Regions from separate parts of the Homo sapiens genome. Here region 2 is linked to region 1. Evidence: fine-mapped expression QTL. Tissue or cell type: transverse colon. Region 1 holds a variant in brackets; the other region holds the start of a gene. All regions are shown on one strand. Distances are from middle to middle.

Region 1 (5,147 bases):
CATAGAAGCTGGGTAAAAATTTACTACATAGGGTTTGTAAGAAGGATGCATGGCTCTAGTAGAGGATTCCCTATGATCAGCATGATTTAGCATTGTGTCTGGCATATAGTAGGTGCTCAATAAATATTTATTGAATGAATAAATACATCATTTCTATGGGCCTTTCCAAACTTGAGAAATTGTGATCCATAAAGCCTCCCCTCACCATTCCAGTTCTCCTTGCTTTCTTCCTTCTCTAGATTGTAGAAACAATTATGAAACACTAATATTATGAACCACTAATTTAATGGCTCTTAATTACATACTGTATTGTCTTTTATTGTTCCCTAGTTATGTTAGGAGTTTAAATTCTGCCTCCCCAAAAAGAGTGCTAGTTACCAGAAATCAATTCTATTTAACTAACGTTTATTGGGCACTATATATTAACTACTAGCACCTGTCCTACAAAACCTTCTATTCTAAAAGGCATAGAAACGTTAAAGAGAGACAGTGCACTAAGTGTCCTAATAAAGGTATATACAAAACGCTATCGTAGACGGGGGAACAATTCATTTTGCAAGAAAGGCGGCCCAGGAAAACTACAGGTAGCATTTCAGCTAGTCTTCATAGATAACAGGAGTTTGTCAGGCTCTTGGGATAATATTAATAGATTAGGGGGAAGTTGATGCTATAGCAAAGACAGATACAAGAGGCTGTCTCGTTTTCTGCTTTAATGTCTCTCCCCATGCGCGATAGAAAACTGCCATTCTCTAGTATACAATCAATACAGAAATGGAAGCCCAGGGGAGAAACGGTAGGGAGCCAGAAGGGGGCTGATCCAACAACCTGACGGAAAGCGTTGTCTATTTCGCAGCCTGGCCGGGGTGAACAAGTTTGGCAAGTGTCGGACCGAACCAGGTCAAGCCTTACCTGCTGCCCCTCCCCAAAGCGGAGCCCAAGCCGCGACCAACTTGAAATGTACTGGGCTTCCTCAAGTCGGTGGCGTTCTAAGCCCGCCTCCCGGAGCTCCCTATTGGTGAGTTTTCTCGGCCAATGCAGGAGAAGCCGAGGAGGGAAGTCCGCCCTCTTGAAGCCTAGGAAGAGAAGGAGGGAGGGAGCGAGTACGCCCGGAACCGAAGCTTGCGAAGCGGGTCGCAGAGAGAGATGGGCGTTGCAGAATCAGCTGGGGTCACTTATTTCCGGTCTCACTCCAGATGAAGGAGCCACTAGCCGGCGAGAGTTCACCGAGGGAACGTGACACTCATATCTCATCGAGGGACCGTGTTGAGGGAGCCCCTACAGAGAGGCCAAAGGAGGAGAGGGCCTACGGAGAAATGAACCTCTGTAAAAGCTGCTCTTTAGGGATCAGTCTTTTTGTGACTCTAGCTTCATAGCTTGGTCTCTCCATTACTCCAGCCTTCCTTTCAATCATACACTGCCTCTCTCCAGCACCACCAATGGATACTTCTTTTCTAAAAATGTTTTTCTGTGGGTTGCTGCCGTGTCTGTGAGAAGGTGGGCAGAGGGTTCAAGAAAGGAAGGATTTGGGATCAGCGTACCAGGGTTGGGGAGACAGGGCAGGAGCCCAGCTTTTTCTGCATTTTCCACTACTTTCCACTTCCTGCGAGCTCCTTGGGAAAGCCAGCAGAGTGGAAGGAGGAGTCCTATTTTCACAGAAAGCAGAAACAAGGGAGAAAGGTTCAGAATGGAGATGAAATCTAGGAGTTAGTCAAGAAGAACATCCCAGATGTCAGAGAAAATGGCCTGTAGACTGGGAGGCTGTAGGTGTAGTGGCAAGCTCCCAGTCTTTGCCATAGGACAGAAACATAGCTGTGAAGCTTTGGAGAGCTTGCTTAACCTTATTAAGTCTGTTTCCTCATCTGTAACAAGAAGATGATAGTTCCTATCTTATAAAGTTGTGAGGATTGAAAATAGTGTATGTAAAGCACATGGCACATAGTTGACACGTGTCCAAGAAATAACTAGTAAAAATGGGTAGCTTCCTGCAAATATTTCTCTCTCTCTCCCATCCCCGGGAACATTATTTTCAGTATCTTGCATCTGGGGGGCCTCCAGCCTCTGAATTAGCTCAGGACCCTGAGTGAACTTTTTAAATCCTTAGGATTTTTCTTTTTCTCCCACTTCCCTTGGTGCCTTCCAGCTGGACACAAACTCATTCCTAAAATATGTGGATGGAAGCTATGGTAACCATGGAGACAGGGCAGGTGGCAAGGAGAGGCAGAGACAGTGTGAGAGACCAATAGACAGATAGGAAGAGAGAAGATATAAGGAATGTTTCAGACAGAGATCGTCAAGCAAGATGGAAAAAATAAGACGTCTAAGCAAGACTGAGATTAAAGAGATGCAATGTGAGAGAGTGTATTACAAGGTTCGCTCTTCTTCCTGCCCCTGTCCTATCTCCCTGCCCACAATAATACGGGGTGGAGGCACCTGGAATGTCCCTTGCCTTATCTAAAAGTGCTCCCATATCCACCTTCCTCATACTTATCTAAGAGGTCTACATAAGGGAGCTGAGGTCCAAGTTTCTCTGCGATGGGTGTTCCGTTTTTGAGAGATGGGGCGGGGGTGTATCTGTGTCTGACT[C/G]CAGGCTGGACCGTGATCTCCTTCACAATTAAACTACAGGAAGAAAGCCACATCTCTTGCCTCTCTTTGCACAGTATGGACACCGGCTGTGGATCCAAAAAGCCTTTCTACACCTTTCTTACACAGTGTGCCATGTGCCGTGTATGGCAGGTCAGGTCTGGCGCACAGGAGCGCACAAACACACCAAGTGCGGAGAATGGGGATCTGCTGAATCTCAGCGAAGAATCTGGATGATGGTCCCTGTCTGGGTCGCGGAGGAGTCCCCTAAGGAACACTTAGGTTTGTTGGGGCTGAGGGGAGGTCGGCTGAGAAAAGGAAGTCAGGATTGGAGCCTCTAGGTTTTTGAGGGTTTATGTGTGCATGAGTGGGGGAGCAGTTTGGTGCCTGACGCCCCCACCCGCAGTGACTAGGCTATAAATAGCACAGCAGAGCTCCGCCCCCCCCCCCCCCCCCCCCCCCGCCAAGCTTCTCTCCTCCCGAGCCGGCGCTGTGCCCGGGGCGCTCCGGGAGGAGGGACCAGGATCCGGCGCCGGGGCGCAGATACTGACACCAAGGGAATCCGGGTGCCCCCCCCCCCACGCCATGCGGGCCCCCAGGAAACTGGCTCCGCCACCTCGGCTGCCCCGTGGCCACGGCCCCAATCCTGGCCAGGCGGAGATTCTGCGGACATTCAGGTATCTATCTGGGCACACAGCCTGGGAGGGGAAAGAGCAAGGAGTGATGGGGAACATCGCAGGGGCAATAGAACCCCCCAATTCTCCCTCCACCCGTTTTAGGTCTCAAATGCAGGCTGCTTCCCTCCCCCCACTCAATTTTTGGGGTTGTGGCAAGCTAAAACAGGTTAGGAATGAGAATACATGTGTGACTGTAGGGTGCATGTATGTGGGTGGGTGGCGTTCAGCATCCTAGAAAGGGGGATCCCAAGTGTGGATAAGACAAGGGGGACAGAGGAAAGGTCTGATAAGCCATGGGGTGAGGGTGGGGGTGCGGACATCCCTGCGCGTGCACGAACGCATTTGCACGCGCGCTAGTCCTTCAGTGCGGGTGCACCCTTCCCACCTCCTCAGGCATGCGCTGCGGGGGAAGGGCCGGCTCAAAGGCATGAGTTAGAGGAAGGACTGTATGCCGTGAAGGTCTCCTCCACCCCACGCTGGGTCCCTGCATCTGTGCCTCAGTTTTCCTGCCGAATCTATCAATGAGATGTCTCTCTTGCAGGGATCGGCTTCGTCACTGAGACCTCAGGCCTCTGCCAGCCACTCCCCCTCCCCATACCCCTAGTCATCCTCGGCAGGTCTCAGTCCCGGCTCCATCTGTGCCCTCGCCCCAGCCGCAGCTATGTTGCACACCGAGGGCCACGCTCTTCTTCGGGCGGTGGGTCAGGGTAAGCTACGCTTGGCCCGTTTGCTTCTGGAGGGAGGCGCCTACGTGAATGAGGGTGATGCGCAGGGGGAGACTGCGCTAATGGCAGCCTGTCGGGCCCGCTACGACGACCCCCAGAACAAGGCACGCATGGTACGCTACCTCCTGGAGCAAGGCGCGGACCCCAATATCGCAGACCGATTAGGGCGCACGGCGCTCATGCACGCTTGCGCCGGGGGTGGGGGCGCCGCGGTGGCCTCGCTGCTCCTTGCCCACGGCGCAGACCCCTCAGTCCGAGATCACGCGGGCGCCTCGGCTCTTGTCCACGCCCTGGACCGCGGGGACCGCGAGACCCTTGCCACACTGCTGGACGCCTGCAAGGCCAAGGGTACGGAGGTCATCATCATCACCACCGATACCTCGCCCTCAGGCACCAAGAAGACCCGGCAGTATCTCAATTCTCCACCATCCCCAGGGGTGGAGGACCCTGCTCCCGCCTCTCCTAGCCCGGGGTTCTGCACGTCGCCTTCGGAAATCCAACTGCAGACCGCTGGAGGAGGAGGGCGTGGGATGTTATCCCCTCGCGCCCAGGAAGAAGAGGAGAAGCGGGACGTATTTGAATTCCCTCTTCCTAAGCCCCCCGATGACCCATCCCCTTCCGAGCCGCTCCCCAAACCACCACGCCATCCCCCAAAACCACTCAAAAGGCTCAACTCCGAGCCCTGGGGCCTAGTGGCCCCTCCTCAACCAGTCCCACCCACTGAAGGGAGACCGGGGATCGAGCGCTTGACTGCCGAATTCAATGGCCTGACCCTGACCGGTCGACCCCGTCTTTCCCGACGTCACAGCACCGAAGGCCCTGAGGACCCGCCCCCATGGGCGGAGAAAGTGACTAGCGGGGGTCCTCTCTCTCGCCGAAACACAGCACCAGAAGCTCAGGAGTCTGGTCCCCCTTCAGGGCTGAGGCAGAAACTGAGCCGCATGGAGCCAGTGGAGCTGGACACCCCTGGACACCTTTGCCCTGACTCGCCTGAGTCCAGCCGCCTGTCCCTGGAGCGCCGCCGATACAGCGCCTCCCCGTTGACCCTCCCTCCAGCCGGCTCGGCTCCCTCTCCGCGCCAGTCCCAGGAGAGTCTGCCAGGGGCAGTATCTCCGCTAAGCGGAAGGAGGCGGAGTCCGGGGCTGCTGGAGCGGAGGGGCTCGGG
Region 2 (5,147 bases), 90 kb before region 1:
ATCACTGTATTCAGAGTCCAAAGTGCTCACCATTACACCATGGAACCTCACACTAGCTTATAACTGGAGGTAACTGAGTTCATACTTAGCAGCCATAGTTCCCACACACCTATGTTAAGGCATTTCTTCTGATCCCTCAAGCAACACCAAGGAAGGTGGACCTGCGAGAGAGGAGTCATCCTCTTTCTTTCTTTCTCTCTGCCCTCTCCTTTGATCAACTTTTATCATTTCATTTGCACCTCAGAAAATGAGGCAAAATCCAGTTTGGGCTTAGGGCCAGAGAAGAGCCCTTGAGGCCTCCCTCTGGAAAACATACTCTCTCAGTTTACCAGAGTTTCCTGTACCAAGGGGAAATTTCCGCAAACAGTAGTGTTATATTCTTTTTGCCTTCCCTCTTTTCCCTTTGCCCAGGGAGGCCAGATGATTGTGAGAACAGGACTTGGGACTTCCTGTGTGTCTTGCCCCCTTCCTCCATGTGATAAATAATGGCTGACACCAAGCAAGTGGGATTGGGAGGCAGGGAATCTTTCATTTTCTTCTTCATATACTTCTACGCATTTGTTTGGTTGGTTTTGGCAAGATTTTCTCACCAGAAATGGAGATTTGTTGGATTTAAAATAAAAAGTAATCAGCCATGTTTTACATTTCTATAAAACACTCAAACCAGGCCATACTCCCCTGCTGTGCCTCAAAATCAACCATAAACTGTCGAGGTCAGGAGGCAGGGCCCTCACACTTAAGCACAGTGTGTTTCCTCAGAATTGGCCAAGTTGATGCCACTCCAATTTCTCAATATACCACAACCCATTAATTGCGGTTTTTAAAAGTGTACATGTATTTTTACCAAAACCCCAGGGCTTCAGTGTTCTCAGCACACAGAAAGACAATCATTGAGACATTGAGTATTGCTGAGGAAGAAGGCTTTAATCAGGTGCTGCAGCTGAGTAGACAGGAGATGAGTCTCAAATCTGTCTCCCTGATTGACTAAAGTTAGGGGTTTATATAGCGCAGAAGAAAAGTTAACTGTGTGTGGGAAAAGAGGAACTAGAGAGGGGTGAGGAAGCACTCGTGATGAGTGAGGGGACTGGCATCTCATTGTCTGGATGCTGTGATTGGCTGAGTTTCGGGTCTCTGATGCTTTTTGAGAGGCCTGAGAGTCCTTTCCTGAGGAAGGAACTCAGATAAAACAAATGTAAGTTTGTTTTATAGAATGGCTTGACCTCAGGAGTTTGAAACCAGCCTGGGCAATATGGTGAAACCCTGTCTCTACCAAAATACAAAAAGAAAAAGAGGGTTGCTTCCAAGATGGCTGAATAGGAACAGCTCCGGTCTACAGCTTCAAGTGAGATAGACGCAGAAGACAGGTGATTTCTGCATTTCCAACTGAGGTACCTGGTTCATCTCACTGGGACTCGTTGGACAGTGGATGCAGCCCACGGAGGATGAGCCAAAGCAGGGTGGGGTGTCGCCTCACCCGGGAAGTGCAAGGGGTTGGGGGATTTCTTTTTCCTAGCCAAGGGAAGCTGTGAGTGACTGTACCTCGAGAAGCAGTACACCCCTGCCCAAATACTGTGCTTTTTTCCACTGTCTTTGCAACCGACAGACCAGGAGATTCCCTCTTGTGCCTGGCTCGGCAGGTCCCATGCCCATGGAGCCTTGCCTGCTGCTAGCACAGCAGTCTGAGATCAACCTGTGACACTGGAGCATGGCAGGGGGAGGGGGTTCTGCCACTGCTGAGGCTTGAGTATGTGGTTCTATGGTCACAGTGTAAATAAAGTGGTAGGGAAGCTCGAACTGGGTAGAGCCCACTGCAGCTCAGCAAGGCCTACTGCCTCTAGATTCCACCTCTGGGGGCAGGGCATATCTGAATAAAAGGCAGCAGACAGCTTCTGCAGACTTAAACGTCCCTGCCTGACAGCAGGGACTGCTGTCATAATCATTATGATTATGAATCATAATCATGAAGACAATCTGTATTCCAGAATAGTAAGGGAACCTATTCCATCAGGGAGCCAACTGAAAACATCAAATCCCAGTTCACACCCCAGGGTGTGGTGTCATGCACCTGTAGTCCCAGCTACTTGGGAGGATTAGTAAGGAGGTTTGCTTGAATTCGTGAGGTCAAGGCAGAAGTAAACCCTGATCATGCCACTGTACTCCAACCTGGGCGACAGTGAGACCTTGTCTCAGAAACAAACAAACAAACAAAAAACCCCACAAAACCAAACAACAACAAATTGTCACCTCATTCTGAAATGACAGTGGCAAACATCACTTTGCTATTTGAAAATTAAAAGAAGCCGGGCGCGGTGGCTCACGCCTGTAATCCCAGCACTTTGGGAGGCCGAGGTGGGCGGATCACAAGGTCAGGAGATCGAGACCATCCTGGCTAACAGAGTGAAACCCCATCTCTACTAAAAATACAAAAAATTAGCCGGACGTGGTGGCAGGTGCCTGTAATCCCAGCTACTGGGGAGGCTGAGGCAGGAGAATGGCGTGAACCCGGGAGGCGGAGCTTGCAGTGAGCCGAGATAGCCCCACTGCACTCCAGCCTGAGCGAAGAGCGCGAGACTCCGTCTCAAAACAAAAAAAAAGAAAATTAAAAGAAAAACACTCCCTCTTGCTATCAACCTGCCCTCTTGCTCTAACTTGTCTGACCCATGGTTTAAAATGCCCAAAAGCTGATGTACTCAAATTATAGTACACTTACCTGTTCTGCACCAGCATTTACTTTTGTCTGGAGGAGATCACCATGCATGGTCCTATACATGTCTAATGGCATGGAATGATGAAGGGTAGTGTCTTTTAGGATAGTTGGATACATATATATATATATATATATATATATATATATATATATGCGGAATGCTACATCACAAGAATAAGAATGTGAAAAGAACCAGTTTCTTTTGTAATCCTAAACGTTCTAGTCTGAGAATTAAAAGCCATTGTTCGAAGAAGGGTGCCCAGGGTCCAGCTGGTCGCCGAAAGCTTGCTCCGCAATACAGGCTAAGGACCAGCTTCTTTGGAAGAGAACAGATGAGGGAAGCAGGAGAGAAAAAAGGGAGAGGCAGACGTCACTTCCCCTTGCCGGCTCCGGCAGCGGGTTGGTCGGCTGAGCGGCAGAAAGGCAGACGGGGACTGGGAAAGGCGCTGTCGGTGACATCACGGATAGGGCGACTTCTATGTAGATGAGCCAGCGCAGGGGCTGCTGCTTCGCCACATGCTGCTTCGCCACGAAGGAGTTCCCGTGCCGTGGGAGCGGGTTCAGGACCGCTGGTCGGACCTGAGAGTCCCAGCTGTGTGTCAGGGCTAGGAGGGCTGGGGGGGAGGGGGGTGTGCGCGGGGCAAGTGACCGTGCGTGTAAAGGGTGAAGCGTGTGAGGCTGCCGGCGGGGCGGAGGTGCAATAACTCATACTTACCTGGCAGGAGAGATACCCTGGTCACGAAGGTGGTTTTTCCAGAGCGAGTCTTATCCATTGCACTCCGGATCTGCTGACCCCTGCAGTTTCCCCAAATGTGGGAAACTTGACTGTATAATTTGTGGCAGTGGTAGACTGCATTCGCGCTTTCCCCTGTATTTTTGTCGTTTTAAAAATAGGTTTTGTTTGCTGCAGAAACGCATACTGGGCGTCAGCGTAAGCTGAGAATCAGGTCTTTGTTCCCATCTGTAACTTCACTGAAACTAAAAATTTGGGACATCGTGGTTCTCACGTTTGTAATCCCAGCAATCTATGAGGTACGTCGATAGGTTATGTTTATGTTAATATCGCTCGACCTCAGGCGTGTGTGGGCAAATATAGTGAACCCGTCTCTACTAATCTCTTATCTTTTTTTGTTGTTGTTCTATAGAAATAAAACTAAGCTTTTCTTTTCCCTATGGGATTAACAGCAAACAGTCCGCTGGAGTGTATGGCGCGATCTCGCCTTACTGCAACCTTTGCCTCCTGCGTTCAAGCTATTCTCCTTCCTCAACCAGAGAATACTCAGCCTCCCGAGTAACTGGCATTACAGGCTCAGGCAACCAAAAAATTAGGTCCGGCTAATTTTTTGAATTTTTAGTAGAGACATGGTTTCACCGGGCCGGGCGCACTGGCTCGCGCCTGTAATCCCAGCACTTTGGGAGGCGGAAGCGGGTGGATCATGAGGTCAGGAGGTCAAGACCATCCTGGCTAACACAGTGAAACCCCATCTCTAATAAAAATACAAAAAAAAAAAATTAGCCGGGTGTGGTGGCACGTGCCTGTAGTCCCAGCTACTCAGGAGGCTGAGGCAAGAGAATCGCTTGAACCCGGGAGGCAGAGGTTGCAGTGAGCTGAGATCGCACCACTGCACTCCAGCCTGGGCGACAGAGTGAGACTCCGTCTCAAAAAAAAAAAAAAAAAAAAAGAGTGACAGGGTTTCACCATGTTGGCCACCCTGGTCTTGAACTCCTGACCTCAAGTTTTCCGCCTGCCTCGCGGCCTCCCAAAATGTTGGGATTACAGGCCTGAGCCACCGCACCTGGCCTGTTTACAGACTTTACAGACACATTTTGTTTACAAGCTTTACAGGTACAGTTCAATTGCGATTAGTGTATATTATGTTTGGCCCAAGACAAGTGTCTTTTTTTTTTTTCCAGTGTGGCCCAAGGAAGCCAAAATTTAGACAACCCTGCTCTAGAGGGTTTGATTCATGGTTCCACTGGGTTATGCTTATTGCCTATAATTCCATTTGATATTTTCCAAATTTGATTTTTTAAAAAGCGTTTTCCTGAAGCACCCTAAAGCTTTCCTAATAATATGAGAACTTAAACCAGATTGGATGTGACAAAACCCTGCTGGAATCCTGCAACTTCTAACCTTAATGTTAGATCAAGAAGCAAAACACCCACCAGTCCAAGGGTCAGGGAAGCTGAAGATCATGCCTGAGCTGTAACAACGCCCTTCCCAGTATACAAAAGAGTGTAACAGCCACTCGAATTCTATCTTCCAAGTGTCTCCTGTTGCCCAGGCTAACCTAGAGCTATCTAAAGATGGCAAATCTGGGAAATGTGCATTCAGCTTGGCAAAACTGATACATTACAAATCCACCACAGTCCACTTCTTCTCAAAGTGGCATCAATGTACATCTTCCTCCTCTTCTTTTTTTCCTCCTCTTCCTCTTCT

The links. PIP is the estimated chance that this variant, and not a neighbour inherited with it, causes the effect.
Region 2: it holds the start of LINC01719, and the variant in region 1 is fine-mapped to the expression of LINC01719 in transverse colon (GTEx, PIP 0.93).

What each region holds. Positions count from the first base shown.
Region 1 is chr1:145,960,531-145,965,677 of GRCh38, reverse strand. ANKRD34A (ankyrin repeat domain 34A) reads left to right here and starts at 1,103. Exons shown (of 4, transcript NM_001039888.4): 1 at 1,103-1,494; 2 at 2,141-2,368; 3 at 2,710-3,257; 4 at 3,799-5,147. The coding sequence starts at 3,919. POLR3GL (RNA polymerase III subunit GL) reads right to left here and starts at 988. Exons shown (of 8, transcript NM_032305.3): 1 at 910-988. RefSeq lists enhancers at 1,092-1,261, 4,660-4,709, 3,911-4,746, 5,110-5,147 and a silencer at 1,577-1,871. The variant C/G (reference allele first, on the strand shown) is at 2,584.
Region 2 is chr1:146,050,512-146,055,658 of GRCh38, reverse strand. It overlaps LINC01719 (long intergenic non-protein coding RNA 1719), which reads right to left and starts at 3,063. Exons shown (of 3, transcript NR_125968.1): 1 at 2,711-3,063. RNVU1-6 (RNA, variant U1 small nuclear 6) reads left to right here and starts at 3,415; the gene lies at 3,415-3,578. RefSeq lists enhancers at 2,745-3,476, 3,477-4,205 and a silencer at 3,326-3,565.